2 separate regions of the Homo sapiens genome follow, and region 1 is linked to region 2. Evidence: fine-mapped expression QTL. A gene starts in region 2. The other region holds a variant in brackets. All regions are shown on one strand. Distances are from middle to middle.

Region 1 (8,337 bases), 40 kb before region 2:
CAAACTGAACCAAATATATGGAACAATGGTTTTCAGACACTGGACAATAGGCAAAACATTTCCGAGGACAGTTCTAGGGCCACCTTGCAGGAAAAAAGAATGCAAAATAGAGCTCAGTGGTCCCACTGTGTTGAAAAGAAAATGTTGAGAATTTGAGAAAGCCAAAGCAGCCAGAATTTGCAAGGCAGAGCACCAGAGAGAAGAGAGCTACAAAGAGGAGACCTACAAAGATCTGCAGAGGGCTTCCCTAGAGTCTTCAGTTGAAAATTGATCAGTGTAGGTGTTTGAGTGTTATATAATAAAGAATTTGTCTGGTCCACGTCCCAGGCTCCTGAGATCTACTAAGTCCTTGGAATTCCTCAAGTGACAGGGATGTCTTTGTTATTCATTATGAGCTCCTGGGACCGTGCCTGAATTTATGCTAATGAAGTAACTCCTAGATACTTTCTGGATGGGTGCTGGCTGTGCTGTAAAGGTCAACCATGTGGCCGGGCATGGTGGCTCACACATGTAATCCCAGCACTTTGGCAGGCCAAGGCAGGCGGATCACGAGGTCAAGAGATCGAGATCATCCTGGCCAACATGGTGGAACCCCATCTCTACTAAAAATACAAAAATTAGCTGGGCATGATGGCGGGTGCCTGTAATCCCAGCCACTCGCGGGTTCAAGTGTAATCACTTGAACCCGGGAGGTGGAGGTTGCAGTGAGCCAAGATCGTGCCATTGCATTGCAGCCTGGGCGACAACAGCGAAACTCTGTCTCAAAAAAAAAAAAGTCAACCATGTGATTAGAGGGCTGGGGCTTTGAGCCAGCAACACCAGCCTGAGCTCCTCTGGGAAGGAAATTGAGTTCAATCATGTGGCCAATGATTCCATCAATCACACCTACATAATTTAAAAACCCTAATAAAAATTTTGAACACCAAAACTTGGCTCAAATTCCTGGTTTGTAAACATACTGATGCATTGGGAGGGTGAGCCCAGAAAGAAGACATGAAAGCTCTGTATCAGGACCCTCCCATATCTAATCCTATGGATCTCCTAATTATGTCATCTACAATAAAACTGTAATCATTAAGTATAGCACTTTCCTGGACTCTGTGAGGTGCTCTAGCAAATTACTGAATGTAAGAGGGTAGTAGGAATCCTTAAATTTGTAGCCAGTTGGTCAGAAATGTGGGTGGCCTGGGGAACCCAGAACCTACAACTGGGCAGTTCAGACAGTTCTTGTTGGGGACTGTGATCTTAACCTGTGGTGTCTGTGCTAAGTTTGGGTAGTTAGCATCAGAATTACATTATAGTACTATAGTGAAGAAACTACCCAAAGCTGGGGAAAGTATTACTGAAAAGAAGCAGACAGAATAATTACTGGATCTCACTCCAAGCTGGGAATAGCTCATACTTTCAATAGGCAGAGTGAAGAAACCTCATACTAAACAGGTTTTTGAGGAGAGTACTCAAAGGGTACTTCCTCAATGGTGGGACAAGATTAGTCCAGACTAAGGCTACTTTTGTCTGGACAAAATTTAAAAGGTAAGACCTGAAGGGATCAAGCTGTTTCCAAGCAACTTTACTGCATCTCAGAATAAAACTTTAAAATACCTAAAGGAATGCAAAAATATCCAGTAATCAACAATGTAAAATTTATAGCCAGGCACAGTGGCTCACACCTGTAATCCCAACAACTCGGGTGGGTGAGGTGGGAGGATTGCTTGAGGCCAGGAGTTTGAGAACAGCCTGAGCAACACAGCAAGACCCCATCTCTGCAAAACTAAAAAAAAATTAGCCATATGTGGCACGTGCCTATAGTTCCAGCTACCCAGGAGCCTGAAGTGGGAGGACTTCTTGAGCCCAGGAGTTTGAGGCTGCACTGAGCTATAATCACACCACTGTACTCTAGCCTGGGCATCAGAGTAAAAGACCCTGTCTCAAAGAAAAAAAGTAAAATTTATAATAACTGACATCCAATTAAAAAACACTAGGCAGCCGGGCGCGGTGGCTCACGCCTGTAATCCCAGCACTTTGGGAGGCCGAGACGGGCGGATCACGAGGTCAGGAGATCGAGACCATCCTGGCTAACACGGTGAAACCCCGTCTCTACTAAAAATACAAAAATTAGCTGGGCATGGTGGCGCGCGCCTGTAGTCCCAGCTACACGGGAGGCTGAGGCAGGAGAATGGCGTGAACCCGGGAGGCGGAGCTTGCAGTGAGTCGAGATCGCGCCACTGCACTCCAGCCTGGGCGACAGAGCGAAACTCCGTCTCAAAAACAAACAAACAAACAAACAAACAAACAAAAAAAAAAACACTAGGCATAGAAAACAGCAGGAAAATATAATCTACAATGAAGAGGAAAAGTAATATAAGAAACACTTAGAAATAACAAAGTAACAGACTTAGTAGGCAAAAACATTAAAAAAATACAAATACATCCTATACGTTCAAAAACATAGAAGAGACTGGATGAGGTGGCTCATGCCTGTCGGCCCAGCACTTTGGGAGGCCAAGCCAGGACTGCTTCAGGCCCGGAGGTCAAGATCTGCCTGGACAACATAGCAAGACCTTGTCTCATAGAGACCTTGTCCTTGTCTCTACAAAAAAATAAAAAATAAAAATAATCAGCCACATGTGGTGGCATGTGCCTGTAGTCCCAGCTACTCAGGAGGCTAACGCAAGAGAATCGCTTGAGCCAAGGAGTTTGAGGCTACAGTGAGCCATAGTAGCATCACTGCACTCCAGCCTGGGTGACAGTGAGACCCTGTCTCAAAAAAAAAAAAAAAAAAAAGGCTGGGCGCGGTGGCTCACACCTGTAATCCCAGCACTTTCGGAGGCCAAGGTGGGCGGATCACGAGTCAGGAGTTTGAGATCAGCCTGACCAACATGGTGAAACCCCATCTCTACTAAAAATACAAAAATTAGCAGGGCGCAGTGGCACATGCCTGTAATCCCAGCTACTCAGGAGGCTGAGGCAGGAGAATCGCTTGAACCCAGGAGGGGCGGAGGGTGCAGTGAGCCAGATTGTGCCACTGCACTCCAGCCTGGGCAACAGAGCGAGACTCTATCTCAAAAAAAAAAAAAAAGAAAGAAAGAAAACCAAATCAATCTAGAGATGAAAGACAAATGTCTGCAATAAAAAAACAAAACAAAACAAAAAACCCAACAACACTGGGTGTGGTTAATAACAGGTCTGACACTGCTGAAGAAACATTAATTTGAAGACATAGCAATAAACACTATCCAAAATGAAACACGGAGAGGAGAAAGATTGGAAACAAAAATGAAGAATTAGTGAGCTGTGGGGCAACTTCAAGCAATCTAATATACAAGTACCTGGAGTCCCAGAGGGAGAGGGTAAGACATGGACATAATATTTGAAGAAATAATGCCCCCAATTTAGCCAACTATTATGAAAACTATAAACCCACAGATCCAAGAAGCTCAATAAATCCAAAGGCCGAGAAACAACAAAGCTACACTAGAGCACATCATAATCGAATTGCTTAAAATCAGCAATTAAAAACAAAACCTTGAAACAGAGAAAAGACATATTACTACATATAGAGGAACAAAAATGAGATTGACAGCAGATTTCTTGTCAGAAACAATATAAGCCAAAAAACCAGTAAAGCAACATCCCTAAAAAAATTGTCAATTAGAAATTCTTGGCCAGGCGTAGTGGCTCATGCCTGTAATCTCAGCACTTTGGGAGGCCAAGATGGGCGATCACCTGAGGTCAGGAATTCAAGACTAGCCTGGCCAACATGGTGAAAGCCAATCTCTACTAAAAATGCAAAAATTAGCTGAGCATGATAGCACATGCCTGTAATCCCAGCTACTCGGGAGGCCGTGGCAGGAGAATTGCTTGAACTCGGGAAGCAGAGGTTGCAGGGAGCCAAGATTGTGCCATTGCACTCCAGCCCAGGCAACAAGCAAGACTCTGTCTCAAAAAAAAAAAAAAAAAAAGAAAAAGAAAGAAATTCTTGCCTAGTAAAAATATTGTTCAAAAATAAAGATGAAATAAGAACTTTTTTTCTGATCCACAAAAGCTGAAAAAATTCATTACCAGCTGACTCGTACTATAAGAAATGATAAAAAGGCCAGGTGCGGTGGGGCTCATGACTGTAATCCCAGCACTTCGGGAGGCCAAGGCAGGAGGATCACAAGGTCAAGAGATCGGGACCATCCTGGCCAACATGGTGAAACCCCGTTTCTACTAAAAATACAAAAATTAGCTGGGTGTGGTGGTGCACACCTGTAGTCCCAGCTACTCGGGAGGCTGAGGCAGGAGAATCGCTTTAACCCAGGTGGCAGAAGTTGCAGTGAGCCGAGATCGTGCCACTGCACTTCAGCCTGGTGACAGAGTGAGACTCTGTCTTAAAAAAAAAAAAAAAAAAAAAGAAATGTTAAAAAGAAGTCCTTCAAGGTGGAGGAAAATGATATCAGATCGCAATCTGGATCTATAGAAGGAAAGGGCACCAGAAATTGTAGTTATGTGTGTAAATATAAAATAGACTTCTTTTTCTCATTTAAAAAAATTTCAGCTGGGCATGGTAGCTCATGCCTGTAATCCCAGCACTTTGGGAGGCTGAGGCGGGTGGATCATTTGAGGTCAGGAGTTTGACGCTAGCCTGGCCAACATCGTGAAACCCTGTCTCTACTAAAAATACAAAAATTAGCCGGGCGTGGTGGCACATGCCTGTAATCCCAGCTACATGGGAGGCTGAGGCAGTAGCATTGCTTGAACTGGGGAGGTGGAGGTTGCAGTGAGCCGAGATTGCACCATTGCACTACAGCCTGGGTAACAGAGCGAAACTCCGTCTAAAACAAAAACAAAAACAAAAA[C/A]AAAACTCTATAAAAAGACAACTGACTGTTTAAGGCAGAAACCACAACCACAATAATGCACTGTGGGGTTTATAACATATATAGAAATTAAATATATTACAGCCATCCCTCCCATAAAGACTAAGAGAGGAGCACGAAAGTATACTATTGTAAGGTTCTGTGCTATACATGAAATTGTCTATTACTTGAAGGCAAACCTTGATAAGTTAAAATGTTTACTACAAACTCCAAACAACCTTTAAAAAGACAAAATAAAGAGCAATTGCTAATAAGGCAATATTGAATTGTACCTCCCCAAAAGATATGTTGAAGCCCTAAGCCCCAGTACATGTCAATGTGATTTTATTCAGAAATTTGGTTTTTGCAGATGTCATTGAGTTAAGCTGAGGATATCTGGGTTGACCCTAATCCAATATAACTGTTGTCTTTACAAGAGGGAAATTTAGATACAGAAACACACATGGAAGATGACCATGTGAAGACAGAGGAAGATACTGAGTTATACTGTCACATGCTAAAGAACACCTGGGGTTATCAGAAGCTGGAGGAGGCAAGGAAAAATCCTCCTCTAAAGATTTTGGAAGGGGAACAACCCTGCCAACACCTTGATTTTGGACTTATGGCTTTACAACTGTAAGAGAATAAGTATCTGTTGTTTTAAGACACTAAGTTGTGGTACTTTGTTATGGCAGCCCTAGAAAACTAATATAGGCAATTAAGGAGATAAAATGGAATCAACAATACAAAGAACACAAAATTATTAAGAGTGAATGTTGGCCAGGCACGGTGGCTCATGCCTGTAATCCCAGCACTTTGGGAGGCTGAGGCAGGCGGATCACCTGAGGTTGGGAGTTCGAGACCAGCCTGACCAACATGGAGAAACCCTGTCTTTACTAAAAATACAAAATTAGCTGGGTGTGGTGACACATGCCTATAATCCCAGCTACTCAGGAAGCTGAGGCAGGAGAATCACTTGAACCCGGGAGGCGGAGGTTGTGGTGGGCCGAGATCACACCACTGCACTCCAGCTTGGGCAACAAGAGTGAAACTCCATCTCCATAAAAAAAAGAGCTGATGTTTATTAGTGTTAGTCTATTTGTTTGACTCTAAAGTGAAATGTACAAATCGGAAATTATTTTTACATATAATGTTGCTTTGCAGGAGGTCTCAAGTTCCTTCTCACAACAGAGCCTCAGGCAATCACTGCAAGCTGGCACTCAAGAGGATTAGACTTACCATTCTGGGAGCATTACAGGAACATAGAGGTCTTTTAGATAGTCAAGGAGGTATATGCACACCTGTGTGTATGTCTGTTTTAAAATTTAGGTACATGTTCACAGTTTTAGAAAGGAGAAAGAAAATTGTATCTTCCTTTTAAAATGTTAGCTATAATCTATTGAGTCCTTGAAGAGGAAAAGAAAATCCTATCTAACACCATTTCTGTGTGGAAATAGATTCATTATTTGAAGTTTATTTGTCTGTTATTTTTATAATCTGTTTATAGACATGCATAATGTGGGGAAGGGGAGTATGAAACCTATCTGTACCTAAACTATAGAAAGGGTCATGTGCATAAGAAGAAAATTACAAATCCATGAGGCAATCAGAGTAAACTAAAATGCTGCTTTAGTTAACTATTGTCTTCTGTGCATTACAAAACTCAACTCAAAATTACATTAGTGTTGTAAGTTAGAGGTTTCAAATTTTACATCTTCAAAATTTACAGTAGTTATTCTAGAATCCACGAGAGTCACTATCTGCCTAAATTAAAGAAATGTAAAGAATCAAGTTTTATGCCAAGAAAAGTTGAATAATTACAATGATAAATACCTTGTTTGTGGACCAGAACTTTGTGTTTGTGCAAGAATTGGAGTTACCTCTCGGCTATTTCCACTCTGTGAGAAGACAGACTTTGTTCCAGTTTGGCCGATTCTGGCAACAGACTGTAAAACACGAAAAGTCTAAGGTTTGTGAATTATGGGCTGCACTGTAAATGATAAAAGACAACACAACGCTCCCATCTACATTTTCTCAATACAAGCAGCCATAATATACTGTCACCTTAAAGATAAACTATTTATATCATATTGTTAATTATTGTTGTATTAGTATGAACATCAGTCTATTTCCCTGTTTTAATCTCACAGTATTTTTACCTCTATAATGTCTTTTCATCTTTCGCTTTTTGTTTCAAAGACTAAAAATCCCCAGAAGCTATTCTTTTCATCTCATTGTGACCATCCTCCATTTATTACATACCTTCTCTATTTGGGGTTAAGTACTAAAAAATTTTAAGACAGCTAAATTCTCAAGATTTATGATTTATCTCATTATACACAGAAAAAAATAATAATACGATAAGATTTTATACTCCTTTGGCACTTGGTAACAGTTCTAAAGGAGTTCAGAGGAGTAGATTTTAAAAAAACAACCATCTGATTACTTTCCAAAACCTAAGGATATTGTTCTTTAGAGTTAATATTGCTTAGTTTTTCTAATCTTCATTAATTGGTTTCTGTTCCCTTGGAGAAAAAAAAATCTTTGCTTGGCTCTTCAGTCTTCTCTAATTTATTCCCTTATTTCTATTCATTTCCACCATCTAGCTTCTTTAAATGATCTATGACTATTGTATCAGTGCACTGTTTTTCCCCTTTGGCTACCAGAGAATTTTCTTCAAAACTTACTGTTACCCTGATGTCCTGTACACAATCCTCAAACTGCATATTATAAATAATCACTAATAATCACTGTCTCATCAGATATTAAAACCTTATTTTAGCCTTTCCTGCATTCAACATCACTGATCATGCCCTACTTTTTGAAACTTTGTGTTACTTCCAAAACATTACATTATTTGTCCTGCCACTTCATTTGCTGGCCCTTTATCCTTCTACTATTTTTAAATTAGGTTTACTCTGTTCTCCTTAGCTACTCTTTCTTTCCCTAGGAGAGCCTGGTCATTTTAATAGTTTCAATTATTATTTCTATCAGCAGGTCACATTTTTTCCTCTATGACTAACTTTCTACTGAATATTTTCATCTAATGTACCACCACTTCAAAATAAAACTTCATAAGCCTTCCTCCGCCTTTTCCAAATTGGGATCACTACATTCATCCAAGGGACAAAAGTCAACTCTGGCTTTTCCTTATTTATCAAAGAACTATGTACACTGCACTCAATACCTGGTTTGATATTTTCAGTTGACACTGCATGCAGACCTACATGCGTGACTTTTCTGGGAATGTCTTGTAATAAGGTAAGAGGAGAACAGAGGCAGAAGAGGATGAGAGAGCAATCTTATCTGGGCACTAAAATCATGTGCCTGCCCACTGTCTTAACTTGCTCTGGTTATTATGGTTATTATGGCTCTTCTAGTTTTGGCCTACTTCACCTGGCATGCTAACTACCATTTTGTTTTGCCTTCTTCATAACTGTAATGTTTAAAACAATCCATACACAAACTATTTTGCAGTCCCTTTTAAGTATTCTTGGAG
Region 2 (8,337 bases):
CTCCTTGGCTCAAGTGATCTGTCTGCCTCAGCCTCTGAAAGTGCTGGGATTACAAGCGTGAGCCACTGTGCCCAGTCAGCTGCCCTTTTTTAAAAACCATAAAATAAATGGATAATAAAGGCTTCAGACAATGTAAGAAGATACAAAGAAAAAAATCACTGTTGAAATTTCATATTATACATTATAATTGAATTTCTAGGATACTGATTTAGTTTAGATGCACGTCAGTGGTTCTTACTCTGGGCAATTTTGCCTTCTTACTCCCAATTAATGCCCCAACATTTAGCAATGTCTAGAGGGTATTTTTGGTTGTCACAAATGGAGGGGTCATCCAGTGGTTAGAAGCCAGGGATGCTACAAAACATTCTACAATGCACAGCTTCCAACAAAGTATTAGCTTGCCCCAAATGTCAATAGTGCTCAGATTAAGCAGCCCTGGTCTACATGATCATGCAGTTGGATTATTCTACTAGTCTGTATGTCTAACTCTTGTCTCTTCCTCCCTTTCCAACAGCACCAGATAAATATTCCCAAAGTGGTGCTTTTATTACATAATTCCTCTGCTCAAAAACTCTTCTGCTCATATAATGGTTATTCATTACCAATGCACATTAAATCTAAATTTCTCATTGAGTAGCCAAAATATGTTACTCTTTGAATCCATGTTAGATGCTGTCCCTGAACATTTTATCCCCAGCCAAGAGTACTCCTTCACCATCTAATGATCTCTAAAACAGTATCATGTATATAGTACCCAATTGCTATATTGCTTATTAAATTAATTTTCGAAAGGCTTATTTACAACTTCATCCAACACTTCTGTGAAGTCTTACCCCTAGGAATAATTGCTAAATCTATATAAAATCTCTTTGCTTCTTTTTTAAAAACCAATTTCACCAGGTGACTTTTATAAATATTCAAAAAGCTCTCACTGAAGTCACTTAGGCTAGTGTGTCTTTCCAAATAGTTACCATTAAAAATAAAAGAACTGACAGAAATTCTGCCTCATATGTGAGACTTTTGTAAGGACTCAAATATAAAGTAATACTCTTCTGAGAGGTAGTAATTTGAGACGGAGTTTTAATTTAGGCATATATGGTATATCGGACTGGCCATTCTACATTAAAACTTTAAAGAAAAAAAAATGCAGAAAACAGTTCTTCATATTTTCTGTGAACTTTTTCCTATGCCTAGTAATACCATCAACTCTGAGGCATTCCAAGAAAGAACAATTTTCCAACTTACTCTCATTGCTTTCCAAATACACGCAATCTGTCATCATAGTTTTTTTTTTAATAAAGACAGTATCTTATATATCTGTCCTATTTTTATTCTCTTCCTAATTCTTTCCCATTTGCAGCACTATCCCTGATCATTGATCTTTATCATTGTAGCCAAAGTTGCTTGTTCTTCTCACTGTTCCAAATCCATTCTTGAATGGCTTCTTATACTATACAACCAAAATTTTCACCTAGTCATATCCTAAAACTTTCTACCACTATCTCAAAAATCTAATGGACAATGCTGCTATGAAAAAGAAGCAAATTTGACATTTAAGCCTTAAAAATATCAAAGTGTATTACTGCTCAGAGTACTTTAAGGACAAACAGGAAACCTGATGGGTACTATCTAGAAACAGGCTACATATTCCTTTTCTTTTCCATGCTTTTATTTTTTATTTATTTATTTATTTTGAGATGGAGTCTCACTCTGTCGCCCAGGCTGGAGTGCAGCGGGACCATGTCGGCTCACTGCAAACTCCATCTCCTGGGTTCAGGCAATTCTCCTGCCTCAGCCTCCCAAGTAGCTGGGATTACAGGCGCCCACCACCACGCCTGGCTAATTTTTTATATTTTTAGTAGAGACAGGGTTTCACTGTGTTGGCCAGGCAGGTCTCGAACTCCTGACCTCAGGTGATCCACCCGCCTCAGCCTCCCAAAGTGCTGGGATTTCAGGTGTAAGCCACCACGCCCGGCCTTCCATGCTTTTATAAAGTCTGAAATTATTATTAAATGGTGGTTATAGTCTATCAATGCAACTAGTTTATCACTTTAGAAGACTTCTGGGGCCAGAGAAGGCAAAAAAAAAAAAATCATTAACTATTAAAACAAAATTATAAGAATATGCAACAGAAATTAAATAACTTGAGTAATCTGCTTATCTATTTAAGTTCATGTTAGGCCTTAAAAAATTATATATATATAATTACCTCATCTACAGCCAGAATAAAAAAAAATCTTAAAAGAAACTATACTGGTAAAAAGAATTTGGATGGAAATAGCTCTAGAAAAACTAATACAACTTACAGACAGGTAAATTTCATAAGATATAATCTTACGTTTTATTAATTCAAACACTAATAGCTGCTATATGTAAACAGCTGGAGAAAAAAACCAAACTAGAAGAAATGAGTATTTCATGCTGTTTAGAAAAATGAAATAAATATGAAAGTAGTGATATATTAAAATATTTACTGTTTGATACCTCAAGCCTTTTAAGGGCAATATGAAGGAATTTCTAAAAATCAGTTTGCTTTATAACTTCAAAATAAAGTCCATGACTCAATGACAGCAGTTGATAGAGGTCAATTCTGATCAAGTTAAAGATCATATAGTGGGATGAAGTCTCCCAGACCTGGTCCATTACCAAGGCACAAAAGATACAGTTTCTCCAGATGTCAGGGGGGAAAATGACTTGGCACCGCATCACACACTTAAAATCCAATAGGGTTCCTTTAATGCAACACAGCACTGTGCGTCAAAGCATACCCTGGTGTAAAGGCAGTGAAATGGACAGAAACACCATTATTTGTGTTTCATTTCCTGAATGCCTTATAAACATGCACAACAAAATGCTCCTGATCCCCATCAGAGAGGATGAAAACAACCCAAATGTGCCCTTTCCACCTCCTCCCCTGGTATTGGTGCTTGCGCCTCAGCACTGAGGCTTGGAGTTGTCTTCTCAAACCATCATTGTCCGGTGGGAAATTCACCGAGAAAGGAAACGTGGGATAGGAAGTCTGTTACCAAAATAGAAATTAGTATTAAAAAGACCGATCCTACGCTCCCTCCACCCTCTCATACAAGACAAAATAAAAAAAACCTCCGTAAACTTGCCCTACCGTCACGAAGATCACACAAGCTCCGATCAAATGTGCTTCTCGATCATCTTTTAGGCAAGAGAGCGCTTGGGGTGCATTTTCGGCCCCTCATCTCCCACCCCCAGTCAAGCCAGGCCCCTGGACTGACAGGAAAGGCTGGCCGGACGTTGGCTCGGACGGGAAAGGCGGTTATTTTCGCCGAAGCCGCTCACGCTAAGGGTGAAGTAATGTAGGGCCAGAGGTAACACGGCTTAGGCTGTGGGCAAGGCCTCCGAACTGACTAAAGATAGGCAGGACACGGCAGCAGGGGAGGCGGGAGAAGCAGCCGGGCCTAGGCCGCACCAGGCCGCGGAGTGGCCCTACGCTGCTGCTTCCCGACCGAGGCTGCCAGCCAAGCCCCAGAGAAGAAGGTTATCATTACCTGGACGGGTTCCTGCAGCACCGTCATCCTCGAGGCTCAGGCCCACTTTCTGCAGTGCCTCAGGCCCCCCCTGTAGCGGCTCCGGCCCGGCCAGCCCCTGCTCATTTAAACTCACCAGCGACCGTTACCGGGGGATGGGGGAGGCCGAGCGATTGCCGAGTGCTTCCGAGCGGGACACGGGAATACCCGAAGTGGAGAAAGCCGAGCGGGAACCAGACGGAAAAGCCCGAAGGGAGTCGGAAATACCCGAGGTTGGTCGACGAGAGAGAAAACCGTTGCCGGAAATTGTCGAAGATTACCGGAAGCTACCGAGTCTGACCCAAAGCGTAGGTTTCTCTTCTCAGCCACGCCTTCAGCCACGCACACCACGCCCAATCGGCCGTCCCAGGGTTGGGCTACGCCAAATCTGCAACCAGCAGGCTGGGCGTGGCGTGACAGCGCGGGCGGGTAGCGTTACGTGGCGGGGCTGCAGTGTGGATTAGCCCCTCAGCCCTTTTGGATTAATTGGTGTGCTGTAGATTATGAAGCAAAGGGTGAAACAGCAGAGTTTGGGGCTGTCTTTAATGAATCAACAAGTATTTGTCTATTGAGTTTAGATCATTCGTCCATTCCAGAAGTATCTACTCACGGCTCTGGGGGAAAGCTAAAGAAATTTGGAAAGATTGCCACTCCCCAAAGACATAGGATAGCTTCTGTCTTCAAGGAGATTAAGGTCTATTTAAGGGAAAAGCAGTGTAACAGAGAACGCTATATTATATGGTGCCTATTATAAGTAATATAAAAATTCAGAGAGGGCAATTGTGATAAGATAAGGAAAGTTCTATGGAAGGAAAAAAAAGTTTAAAATGGAGTTTGAAGGATGGGTAAAATTAGAGGAAAAAGAAGTATAGGAAAGTGAAGGGAGGAAAAATGGGATCAGTCTGCTAAGAAGGCATTAATTGGAAATAGTTACTTAGGTGAAGAGATCATGGAAAAGCTCAATAGGCCATTAGAAATTTTTATTTTTGATAGGTGAGGCATTCCGCTGTGGTGGGAAGAGTAGGGGGTCGGAAATTCAGAGGCCTGGTTTTGAATTTTATCTTTAGCACTAACTAGTCATAGGTCCTTGGCAAATTACCTCTCTGAACTTATGTTCGCTTAGTTTGAAAAAAAAGGATTAAGAGAATTCGATGTATTATAAATGTGGCCGTGTCTAGCATGCAATGTAGACTCTCTCATATTTCCTTTCTGCTCCCCTTCTCCCCCCAAAAAGAGTGAACCAGGGGACTGTTTAAATTTTGTTTTTCAGCAGATGAGGAAACAGTTTTTGAAAGTTACTTTTCTAGTCAGGAGCTCTCTAGGCTAGATGTGAGAATCATGATATATTCCATTGCTTGGAAATTTCCCTTTGGGTGATGTTAGAGGGAGATATTTTTTCTTTCATTTTTAAAAACAAGGCTGACAGAGCTACACTGCATCCTTCTCCACCGCCTTGTCTTGTCACTGTATATATACTTATAGCCCCTAAAGGGCAGGTGCTAAGATGATTTTTGGCTGCCCTGTGCCCAGTTGCTTTAGCGGGATTATGCTGGATGACTTGAGTGGTAACAGACTTTTACACTGGCCTGGAAAGTAGCCATTAGCTATTTAAAGTTTAAGTTAAAATGAAATTAAAAATGAAGTTCTTCAGATGCCCTAGCCACATTCCAAGGATTCAGTAGCCCTGTATGTGGCTAGTGACTGCCATATTGGACAGTCACACAGATATAGAAGAACATCACCAGCACTGGCTTGGCTAGGGCTGAAAGATTCAAGATGGCTTCACTCACATGTCTAGGGTGTCAGTGGTAGCTATTGGCTGGGTCCTTCATTTCTTCTCTGCATGACCTCTCTTTTCACACTGGCCTCTTATGAGTCAGTAGTTTAGCTCCAGCTTCTTGACTTGGTGGTTGACAACAAAGTGCGCAAAAATAGAAGCTGTGAGGTCCCTTAGGCCTAGGCCTGTGAGCATCACTTCTTGTTGGTCAGAGTAAGACTCAGAGCCACCCTGGATTCACCAGGAGGAATAGTCTACTTCTTAATGGGAAGAGTGGCAAAGTAACACCACAAAGGGCGTGTGCCATGGGAGGAGTTTTTGGGTCATCTTTGGAAACAATCTACCACGCTAGATATGAGATGAGAGTATCTAAGATTGGGAATGGAAAGAAAGGGATAAGTAAGAGCTATCACTCTTAAAATGTGACCCTTTCAACTGAACACAGTACTCCAGATTTATTCTGAATAATTCAGAATGCAGTTGGACTATTATTATCTGGACACGTCTATTAAAGTGGACTACAGTTGTATTTACATTTTTTTTTTCCGAGACTGAGTCTTGCTCTGTTGCCCAGAGCTGGAGTGTAATGGCGCAATCTCGGCTGACTGCGTCCTCCGCCTCCGGGGTTCAAGCAATTCTCCTGTCTCAACGTCCCGAGTAGCTGGGATTGCAGGTGCGCACCACCACGCCCGGTTAATTTTTGTATTTTTAGTAGAGACGGGGTTTCACCATGTTGGCCAGGCTGGTCTCAAACTCCTGATCTCATGATCCACCCATCTCGGCCTCCCAAAGTGCTGGGATTACAGGTGTGAGCCACTGTGCCCAGCCTGTATTTACATTTTTTAGCAGTCACATGACACTGTTTGCTCATGCTAAACTTGTGTGGTCATTTACGGACTCAGCTCTTTTTCACACAACATGCTGCCAACCCAAGTCTTGTATGTGTGCAGCAGAGTTTTGTAAACCTAAATATAGGACCTTACCACAGAGGATACATAAAGATGATACTTTGTGAAAATATGGATCTAGAGTCAGCATTTAAAGAGCCTCTGATGCTTGGCACTCTGGCTTATAGGCTTAGAATTTGCCTAAAGCCTTTTTTCTTTTTTTAACCTAAAAAAGAGCATTTCCTGGCTGGGTGAGGTGGCTCACGCCTGTAATCCCAACACTTTGGGAGGCCAATGCAGACGGATCACCTGAGGTCAGGCGTTCCAGACCAGCCTGACCAACATGGAGAAAACCTGTCTCTACTAAAAATACCAAATTAGCTGGGCGTGGTGGCACATGCCTGTAATCCCAGCTACTTGGGAGGCTGAGGCAGGAGAATCGCTTGAACCTGGGAGGTGGAGGTTGCGGTGAGCTGAGATTGCGCCATTGTTCTCCAGCCTGGGCAACAAGAGCAAAACTCCGTCTCAAAAAAAAAAAAAGGCCAGGCGCGTTGGCTCACGCCTGTAATCCCAGCACTTTAGGAGGCCAAGGCGGGCAGATCACAAGGTCAGGAGATCGAGACCATCCTGGCTAACACAGTGAAACCCCATCTCTACTAAAAATACAAAAAATTGGCCGGGCGTGGTGGTGGGCACCTGTGGTCCCCAGCTGCTGGGGAGGCTGAGGCAGGAGAATGGCGTGAATCTGGGAGGCGGAGCTTGCGGTGAGCTGAGATCGGGCCACTGCACTCCAGCCTGGGTGACAGTGCAAGACTGTGTCTCAAAAAAAAAAAAGCATCTCCTTTCTGATTGTTGTTGACCAGGCTAATACATCTGTTGTGGTTTCTACTCATCCACAGCAAAGCCACATTGTTTGAAGTACTTTGATGGGGTATTTTGGAGTGTTTTTACTTCCTTCTCTGCTCCTAATTGACCTACTTAAACTCGCTATTCATCAACCACTTGGGCATCCTGCTGTCATCCGTTATCCAATATGTTTGGCTAGTGAGTGGAGTTGGGTTACAACAGCATTATTCCAAAAATGGAATTGGAAAATTATTTTTTCTCCTAAGCCTGCTTCTTGGTCTATTTCATATTCAGTCAGATTTGGAGGCTGGCATTTAGGGAACTATTCAAAAAGCTAGACGTGATATCAGTAGCAAAATGTAGGTCCCACTGAAACATAGCCCAGAGTAAGTGTACTCTCCTGAAGTCTTTCAGTCCTCCTTGTCTGTACCCTTCATTTTGTCCCTGTTGCGTGCGGTTTTATGGCCTCCTTACCTGACCTTGCACCCCACCACCCCCACCCCACCCTCACCATGTTTACTCTTTGGTCAAATCATCCTCTTCTTTTGGCTTCTCTAATGACACCATCTCCTAGCTTTCCTCCTACTGCTCTGTTTTTGTTTGTTTGTTTGTTTGAGAGAGTCTCGCTCTGTCACCCAGGCTGGAGTGCAATGGCGCTATCTCGGCTCACTGCAGCCTCCGTCTCCTGGGTTCAAGCGATTCTCCTGCCTCAGCCCCCTGAGTAGCTGAATTTACAGGTGTGCGCCACCACACCCAGCTAATTTTTGTATTTTCAGTAGAGACGGAGTTTCGCCATGTTGGCTGGGCTGGTCTCGAACTCTTGACCTCAAGTGATCTGCCTGCCTCAGCCTTCCAAAATGCTGGGATTACAGGCATGAGCCACTGCGCCTGGCCTACTGCTCTGTTTTTTAATCGGTTTCCTTTGCAGCTCCTCTGCCAGCCCCTTTAATATTAAGCATGCTTCAAGGACCTGTTCTAGGCCTTCTTCTCACCCACCCTACACATTCTTCTTAGGCAAAACTATCCTTTCTTTCTTTCTTTCCTTCCTTCCTTCCTTCCTTTCTTTCTTTCTTCCTTTTTCTTTCTCTTTCCTTTCTTTTGAGACAGAGTCTCACTCTGTCACCCAGGCTGGAGTGCAGTGGTGTGATCTCAGCCCGCTGCAACCTCCACCTCCCAGGTTCAAGCGATTCTCCTGCCTCAGCCTCCCGAGTAGCTGGGACCACAGGCACACGCCACCATGCCAGGCTAATTTTTGCATTTTTAGTAGAGATGGGGTTTCGCCATGTTG

The links. PIP is the estimated chance that this variant, and not a neighbour inherited with it, causes the effect.
Region 1: its variant is fine-mapped to the expression of CDC27 in whole blood (TOPMed, PIP above 0.99).

Annotation. Positions count from the first base shown.
Region 1 is chr17:47,145,135-47,153,471 of GRCh38, forward strand. It overlaps CDC27 (cell division cycle 27), which reads right to left. Exons shown (of 19, transcript NM_001256.6): 9 at 6,672-6,784. Among named protein-coding and RNA genes, the nearest start is that of CDC27, 40 kb to the right of the region's middle. The variant C/A (reference allele first, on the strand shown) is at 4,842.
Region 2 is chr17:47,185,625-47,193,961 of GRCh38, forward strand. CDC27 (cell division cycle 27) reads right to left here and starts at 3,671. Exons shown (of 19, transcript NM_001256.6): 1 at 3,522-3,671. The coding sequence starts at 3,548. It also overlaps a transcript of MYL4 not described here. RefSeq lists a silencer at 3,196-3,245 and enhancers at 3,279-3,875, 3,406-3,595.